Regions from separate parts of the Homo sapiens genome. Here all the other regions are linked to region 1. The links come from fine-mapping of genetic effects on plasma protein levels. A gene starts in region 1. Each other region holds a variant in brackets. All regions are shown on one strand. Distances are between the middles of the regions.

Region 1 (2,765 bases):
ATTGTTCCCCAGATTCTAAAATCAACCATCTGCCATAGGAGTTTCTGCTCAGTAATTAAGGGACTATCCATTAGAACTGGCAAGAGTACAAAGTACGAAGGAGAAGGGTGAGGCAGGGGAGAAAAAACCACTTAAAAGAGATAGGGATATGTGTCTCACACTGGCCCTTCTACACCTCAGCTAAAGTACTGTCATCCATGAGGCAATACAAAGTTAGGACAAGCGGCAAGAGCAACTCCTGCCGGGGTTATCGGAACTGAAATCACAGTGGGGATGCAGCACGCCGGGCATACCTTGAAAGAGAAAGGCTTTCGTCCCATTATGCAGCCCCGGGACCTGACGCACTCCGGTCGTGGACTCCCCAAGTTCTAACTCTGTTAAGACGTCAATCTGTAGGGAAGGGTCCACACCAAGCCCCCAAACTGGTGAGGGGTATGAGGTGGGAGAGAGAAAAAGGAAAAGCTCCATCAAAATGCAAGTCTCTTCCTCCAGGGCAGCAAAGAACCGCGTTTTCGCGACAATATTGGGAACTGAAGATGAGAGGCGACTGCCTCCTCCTCCGCCGAGAGCCTTACCTGAGATCAGCAGCCAAGCTTTAAATAGCGGAGCACCCAGTCCCGTTTCCATGACCTCCTTTAAACCCTTCTCTCTGCAAAGTTCCCCCTCAGCCCTCCGACCCTGGACTAGGGGCGTGATCCGCCTCGCGGTCTCCAAGGCAAGCACAGAAAAAAAAAAAATCCATATCCAAACCCGCCCCCTTACTCCAAGCTTCCCACTCCAGACCTACTTTGGGTCCGGGAAAAGCGAGGCTTCCCCAGCCAGCCCATGCTGCCCCGAGGCGGGAGCCATCCCTTTCCCCAGCCCCAGCTCTGCGGCCACTCACCTGCTCCGAGACCGAAGATCAAACAGAATGTTCTCAGTAAGACCCGAGACTCCATGGTGCGGATCAGCTCAGTCCATCGTCTCCCTCTTTAAAAATAAAAATAAAAATCGAAGAGGTTCTTGGAATCAAGCGGGAAAATAACGTTTGTCTCTCCTGCTGCTGCCTCGGATTTACTGATCAGTAGGATTAATACGCTTTGGTTGCCTAAGAAAGAAAAGGGAGGCCTCCCCAGGCGCGTGAAGAACTTAGACCCTCCAATGCGCACATCATTCCCACACGCAGGGCCGAGGCGGCAGCGCGGCCCGGAGGGGGCCCGGAGGGAGGGGTCGGACTCGCCCCGGCGCGGCTCCGTCGGGGAATTAGCTCCCGAGCCGAATAAAAGCAGCCAAAGACTCGCACACCCGGTAGAAGGGGGGCGGCCCCAAGAAAGCCCGGGCTGGGGCGGCCCCGCACCCCCCCGTCTTCCCCGCCGCCCGAACCTGTTGTAAAGGCAGAGACAATGGAGAAAGCTCCGGGAGACGCGCGGAGAGACTGCTCCTCCGGGGAGGGAGGGGCGGGCCGGGGGAGGCGGGGTAAGGAGGAGGGAGGGGCCGCCGAGGGCGAGGCCGGCGCTCAGCGTCGGTCTCCCGCACGGTCTCCTGGATGCCAAACCCGGTCTAGGGAGCCCAGGAGCCGTTGCAGCCTCAGCTCTTCTCCCTCCCTCTCTCGATGACCCGGGCAATGCCAACCTCCTTTCGGGATTGAAAGCTCTAAATCCAAGGTGCTAAGTTGATGGGCGGTCTTTGCTCTCACCCCTCGATTTCGGGCGCGTGTCTTGAAAGACAGGAGAGAAAAAAGACCACCCAGCTGCAGGAGGCAAGGCTGGAGCGAGTAGCGCTCGCCTGCCCTTTAAGCAAAGGAGGGAAGCCCATGTGCACTCGTGCACTGGGCTCCGGAGCAGCCCCGGGGTGCAGGGCACTCCCCCTCCAGGGCGTGCGGAGGAAGGCCACCAAAACACGCTGCACTGCCGAGGTGGAGCTGGGCAAAGTAGGTAGAGACTGGTGGGGACGGATGGCGAGCCTGGGAAGCCCCGGGTGTCCTGGTGGAGAGGTTCCCTGCCGGGGGCGGGGCGCTGGAGAGCTTCCCCGGCGCGGAGAGCTTCCCGGGCGCGGAGAGCGCAGAGAACTTGGCCAGGAGGTGCTGGACAGCTCCGGAACCCGCGCGCCCCCTGCCAAATAAAGCGTGGAGACCCGGACTCGGGCTCTCTGGGACCAGCATACAGCAGAAGGCAAGGGGAACTGAGCCAGGGCGTCTGTTCACGCCGAAATATCTACCTACATAGAGGAGATGGTTAGAGAGAGAGAGAGAGAGAGAAATAAATAAATACGTAAATAAGCAGAGGGAGGAGATGGAGCCCAGGCGAGAGAGAAGAGCCATCCCACTGTTGACCACACTCATGCAGGCTCTACCTGCCCTTCACCACATATGTCCGGGACCATAAAAGTGGTGTCCTTTGAGATCCATTTTTCAGCAGGCACATGTATGTTCAAGATCAATGGTACATAATATTTTTTGAACATAGCCCTAAAATTTTTAGGTAAATTTTGAGGAATGGCATTCCACTTTCATTTTGGAAAAGTTAAGAGTTTAAAAAACCATTATGGTATTAATCTGTACAAAGATCAATTGGGTTTCTTAACCTTCCATGCAAACATGTGGGTACTGAATTCTCCAACTGGATACTAACAGCTACAGTTACCAAAATGCCTACTGGGTAGTCTGAGCCCCCTGCAAGGCAGGAGTATAATATACATTTTATCTATAGATATATAGTTATAGATATTATCATATAGTGGAATACATATACTATATTATACTATAGGGAAAGAGGTATTTTTAGATC
Region 2 (2,765 bases), 160 kb before region 1:
CACACACAGAGAGAGACAGAGAGAGAGAGAGAGAGACAGAGAGAGAGAGAAAGAGAAGTAGAGAAACTTTAAATGCTCTCAAGATTTTTAAATTTAGAACCAAAATTTTAATGTTAGAGATTACTATTAGAAGCCAGCTGGCAGAAGTTTTCTTCCCTCCTTGAAGTAACTTCTCTGAGTCTCTTTTCTCATTTTGGAGTTACTAGATCTCACTCTGTCTTCCAATTCTTTTATCTATTGTGAGACTTACTCCACTTAAAACGGCATTGGTGTAGGGAGGCTGATAAAGGAAAATCCATCATCTTGAAATACAGGTTGAGGAATTCATTTTAATGTTCCTGTGCCTCTATTCTCTAAGATGAGAACCTACATCATTGGAAAGCTGATTTAAAACTAAAAGAAGAAGAGAGGATACTTTATAATGGGCATGAAGAAATCAGAGCTTTCATGTTCTAGAAATCAAATCTGTCACAGTCTTGCCTCTTTGCATCTCCTCCTTGCTTATCTCAAAGGATTTCCAAATTAAGATGCATAAACTGGATAGCTTCTTTCAGATTCAATTTGTCTTAGCAAAATTCTTAGGATTTTCCTTTCCCTCACTCTTAGCAATCATAGTTTATTGGTGGTGCCAGCAGCATAAATCACTATCTTAATTTTCTACATAATTTATACATACTAAATCATTTCCCAAACCATGTATAGGAGGTATTTAAAGAGGAAAATTAACTATCAAATAAAAATGAAACCCTAAAGCAGAAATTTTATATATAGACAGTTTCCTTCATATAGAATAAGGATTTTAATGTAACATTAGGGTCAAGAAATATAACATTATAATTTACAAAAGACAAACATGAAAAGTGTTGTGAAACATATTTAGTTTTTCAATTAGTAGGTCGAGGGGCAAAAATTCAAATGAATCACATTTGCTTCAGAAACCTTGGCAAGTAAATTTGTAAGGAATTTCCCTTTAACTAATTTAAAACACTCCTTCCAAAGGGAATTAGATAAATATCAGTCTCAACTCCATCCAACAATTAATTTTAGTTAGGTAATTTTTCGTTTTGTTTTTAATTGAACTGAGCAATACTTCTCACATGGTACAAAATCATGAGTGACAAAAAGCTAAGTCTAACTTCACCTACATTTTCCTCCCAAGAGCAAATAAGGAGCTTATTTGAATTTGGAAAACATACGACAACTTCATAAAGCTTTAATTTGACAAAATAGCATTTTCATTTCTTGGAAAAATTATTTTTCAACCACTAATTTACATGCTTAAAAATGAGAATTTCTTTACATTCAAATGATAATTAATATTGTGAATTTTCTCTTTGCATTAGAATTTCAAAAATGTATTTCAAGGTTGAGCTAGTAAAGAAACTTTTATCTTGTTTATAAATAGAAACAATTTTGAAAGACCCACGAATAGTCTTCTTACCTTGCACTCATAGAGAACACATACTCCAGAAGAGGAATAGACTGTAT[T/C]TCTTTCTCCTTCAAAGTAGGTTCGTCCTTGAAATTGGCATATCGCTTTGGAGTAAAAAATACATATATATTTATTTTATTGGGAAAAATAGCTTAGAAGGGATCAGATCATCTTGTAACAGCATTCCACATGTTATACACCTTTTTTCAACATGTATGACTAACCAGAAACCTCAATTCAATCTACTGCAAGGCACATGTAAACTTAAATTAGTGTCATGCAAATTAAGTTGAGAGAGTAAAATAAGATATAAAAAAGATAAAGGGCAATGACATGTCTGAATTAGACTCTGAAAAAGTAGTGCCAAAAAGCAGACTTACAGCCAATTACTTGCCTAATAGATGATGTCCCACTTAGGGCATATTAAGTAGTCACTTAGGGCGGCAATAAATCAGGGGTAATATGAGACTCAGGGAACAATATGAGAAAAGTTTTTGTTTTATATACCATTACAGAATTTTAAAATAGAACATTATAATAGAAAGAAGGTATATTCATTTCAGCACATCCATGTAAGTTTTAAGTTTTATGGTTTAGTGTCATTTTATTTATAAGTATGTATGGGTTAGGGCACCCCATCTAGGATGCTGAGAGGTCTGAATCTGAACCTGCCTTGCTTCCATCACAATTAAGTGAAATTTTAAAATGTAACCTTAGATTCCATGGGAAAAATATGTTTTTAATCCATAAAAATGCATAGAGTATCAAATAATCTTTTTCTAAAACCTGCAACATATTTACAGTTCACACAAACATTTAGCCAACAGAAATCATTTCCTTGTTTTGAAGTATTTCACACGACCTACACTGACTCATCACCTAAGGTGAAACAGATTTACCCTAAAGCTAATGATGCCTAATTTTCAGCGTCCTTCTCTGGCTTAGGCTCCTTGTAAGATGCTGAACTAAGTTCTCCTTTCATAATTTTGTATTGTTTATCTTTGAAAGGCCACCCAATATTGTAGATGCTTCAGGTCCCCATAACATCTAGATCTACCCCAAGATAATTATTTCAAAGACCAGTGGAAGTGATCAACTGATACAGACTCTGGCAATTTGTTCCCCAAATTTACTAAATCCAATTTTTTATTTTAACTATACAAATTATATAAAGTGAATGGGTATATTTTCTTTTGATTCCACTGTGTGAATTATGAGAAATTGTCTCACTCTTTGGAATTTATATATCCCTATTACCTTTAAAACTATCAACTTGCCAATAATAAAGAAGGAAGAAAGTAGACATATTTTTACTTTTAAATTTTATTATTTATTT
Region 3 (2,765 bases), 590 kb before region 1:
AACACAATCAAATTAATGAACATATTCATCATACATAGTTAACCATTGTGTGTGTATGTATGTATGCATGTGGTGAAGACACTCAATACCTACCTTCCTAGTGAATTTCAAGTAAAACTTCAGTATTATTAATTATAGTCACCATGCTGTACATTAGATCCTCAGAACCTATTCACTTATAACTGAAAGTTTGTACACTTCAAACAACATCTCCCAATTTTCCCCACTCATAATCCCTGATATCTGTTCTTCTACTCTTTGCTTCTATGAGTTCTACTTTTTCAGATATCACATGTAAGTGATACCATACAGTATGGGTATTTCTATATCTGGCTTATTTTATTTAGCATAATGTTCTTTAGGTGCATCCATGTTGTTGCAAATGGAAGGATTTCATCTCTTTTAAGGCTGAATACTATCCCATTTTGTGTGTGTGTGTGTGTGTGTGTGTGTGTGTGTGTGTGTGTAACATTTTCTTTCTTCATTCATCCATTAATAGGTACTTAGGTTGGTTCTACATCTTGGCTGTTGTGAATAATGATGATATGAACAAGAAAGTGCAGATATCTCATCAAGATACTGACTTAATTGCCTTTAGATATATATTCAGAAGTGGATTTGCTGGATTGTATAGTAGTTTTATTTTTAATTTTTTGAAGAACCTCCTTACTGTTTGCCATACTTGCTGAATCAATTTACATTACCATTCCCACTAACAATGTAAAAGAGATCTGTTTTCTTTTCTTTTCTCTTTTTTTTTTTTTTTTTTTTGAGACAGAGTCTCCCTCTGTTACCTAGGCTGGAGTGCAGTGGCACAATCTCAGCTCACTGCAACCTCCGCCTCTCAGGTTCAAGCGATTCTCCTGCCTCAGCCTCCCGAGTAACTGGGATTGCAGGCGCCCGCCACCATGCCTGGCTAATTTTTTGTATTTTTAGTAGAGACAGGGTTTCACTATGTTGGCCAGGATGGTCTCAAACTCCTTCCTGATCCGCCCGCCTCAGCTTCCCAAAGTGCTGGGATTA[C/A]AGCCACTGCACTGAGTCTAGGGATCCCTTTTCTTAACACCATCACCAACACTTGTTATCCCTTGTCTTTTTGATAATAACCATTCTAACAGCAATATGTCATTGTAGTTTTAATTTGCATTTCCCAGATGATTAGTGAGATAAAGCACCTTTTAATACACCTGTTGGGCATTTGTATGTTTTCTTTGGAAGAATGTTTATTCACACCCCTTGCCCATTTTCTAACCAGGTTATTTCATTTTTTGCTATTAACTTGTATGAGTTCCTTATATATTTTTAATATTAACCCCTTGTCAGATACAAGGTTTGTAAAACCATCTCCCATTTCATAGCTTGCCTTTTTATTTCTTTTGCAGTACATAAGTGTGATTGTTTCTTTTGCAGTACATAAGTTTCTTACTTTGATGTTATCCCGTTTGCTTATTTTTATTTTTTTGCCTCTGCTTTTTGTGTCATATACAAAAAATCATTGCCAATACGAATGTCAAGGAGCTTTTTCCCTGTTTTCTTATAAGAGTTTTATGATTTCAGGCCTTACATTTAAGTCTTTAATCCATTTTGAGTTAATATTTGTGTATGATGTAGGTGTCTAATTTCTTTCTTTTGTATGTGGATATTCATTTATCACAATGCCATTCTCTTTGTATTCTTAGTGCTTTTGTCAAAGATTAGTTGACTGTCTATGTATGGGTTTATTTCTGGCTCTCTGTTCTATTGGTCTATGTATCTCATTTTTATGCCAGTAGCATACTGTTTTGATTACTGTAGCTTTGTAACATAATTTGAAATCAGAAGGTGTGACACCTCCAGTTTTGTTCTTTTTTATTTTTTAAGGACAAGTGTCTCTCTTTGTCACCTGGGCTGCAGTGCAATGGCTTAGTCATAGCTCACTGCAAACTCAAACTCCTGGACTCAAGCAATCCTCCCACCTCAGCTTCTGGAGTTGCTGGGGCTATAAGCATGCACCATCAGCCCCAGCTGGTTATTAATTTTTTATATATAAAAGCGAGGTCTCACTATGTTACCCAGGGTGGTCTGGAACTTCCAATCTCAAGATCCTCCTACCTTGGTCTCCCAAAGCACTGATATTTTAGGCATGAGCTACTGTGCCTGGCCCTGCTGTACTTTCCCAAGATTCGTTTGGCTATTCAACATCTTCTATAGTTTTATATTAATTTTAGAAATGTTTTTCTGATTTCTTTGAAAAATGCCATTGGAATTTTTATAGGGATTACATTGAATCTGTAGATTTATTTGGGTAATATGGATATTTTAGCAGTATTAATTATTCCCATCTCTGAAGATAGGAAGTATTCCATTTATTTGTCTCTTCAGTTTCTTTCATCAACATCTTACAATTTTCAGTGTACAGATCTTTCACCTCTCGTTAAATTTATTTGCAAGAATTTTATTCTTTATTATTCTTTTGTAAAGTGGATTGTTTTGATTCTTTTTAGATGGTTTATTATTAGTATGTAGAAACACAGCTAACTTTTGTATGTTGATTTTTTTGTCCTGCAACTTTACTCAATTTGTTTATTAGTTCTAACAGTTTTTTTTTTTTTTTTTTTTTTTGGTGGAGTCTTTAGGGTTTCCTGTATGTAAGATCATGTTATCTGCAATCAGAAACAGTTTTTCTTCCTTTCTGATTTGGATATCTTTTATTTCATTTTCTTGCCTAATTGCTCTGGCTAGACTTTCAGTACCATGTTAAATAGAAATGATGAGGGTGGGCATCTTTT

Which allele goes with the higher level. Alleles are on the strand shown, and positions count from the first base shown. The strength of an association depends on the size of the effect and on how common the allele is.
With allele T in place of C in region 2, the plasma level of the protein whose gene starts at base 1,384 in region 1 is higher (moderate association).
As copies of A replace C in region 3, the plasma level of the protein whose gene starts at base 1,384 in region 1 goes down (weak association).

Evidence for each region. PIP is the chance, under the fine-mapping model, that this variant and not a neighbour inherited with it causes the effect. The UK Biobank Pharma Proteomics Project read protein levels with antibody pairs (Olink). The fine-mapping took linkage between variants from a reference panel, not from the people measured, so its PIPs are less certain.
Region 2: its variant is fine-mapped to the plasma level of the NELL2 protein (UK Biobank, PIP above 0.99). The variant lies in the coding sequence of NELL2. If it changes the protein, the assay may bind it differently, which can mimic a change of level.
Region 3: its variant is fine-mapped to the plasma level of the NELL2 protein (UK Biobank, PIP above 0.99).

Annotation. Positions count from the first base shown.
Region 1 is chr12:44,874,932-44,877,696 of GRCh38, forward strand. It overlaps NELL2 (neural EGFL like 2), which reads right to left and starts at 1,384. Exons shown (of 20, transcript NM_001145108.2): 1 at 884-1,384; 2 at 294-422. The coding sequence starts at 938. RefSeq lists enhancers at 1,507-2,008, 2,009-2,508.
Region 2 is chr12:44,713,209-44,715,973 of GRCh38, forward strand. It overlaps NELL2 (neural EGFL like 2), which reads right to left. Exons shown (of 20, transcript NM_001145108.2): 10 at 1,442-1,533. Among named protein-coding and RNA genes, the nearest start is that of NELL2, 160 kb to the right of the region's middle. The variant T/C (reference allele first, on the strand shown) is at 1,489.
Region 3 is chr12:44,288,800-44,291,564 of GRCh38, forward strand. The region is part of intron 5 of TMEM117 (transmembrane protein 117); the gene reads left to right. Among named protein-coding and RNA genes, the nearest start is that of TMEM117, 450 kb to the left of the region's middle. The variant C/A (reference allele first, on the strand shown) is at 1,024.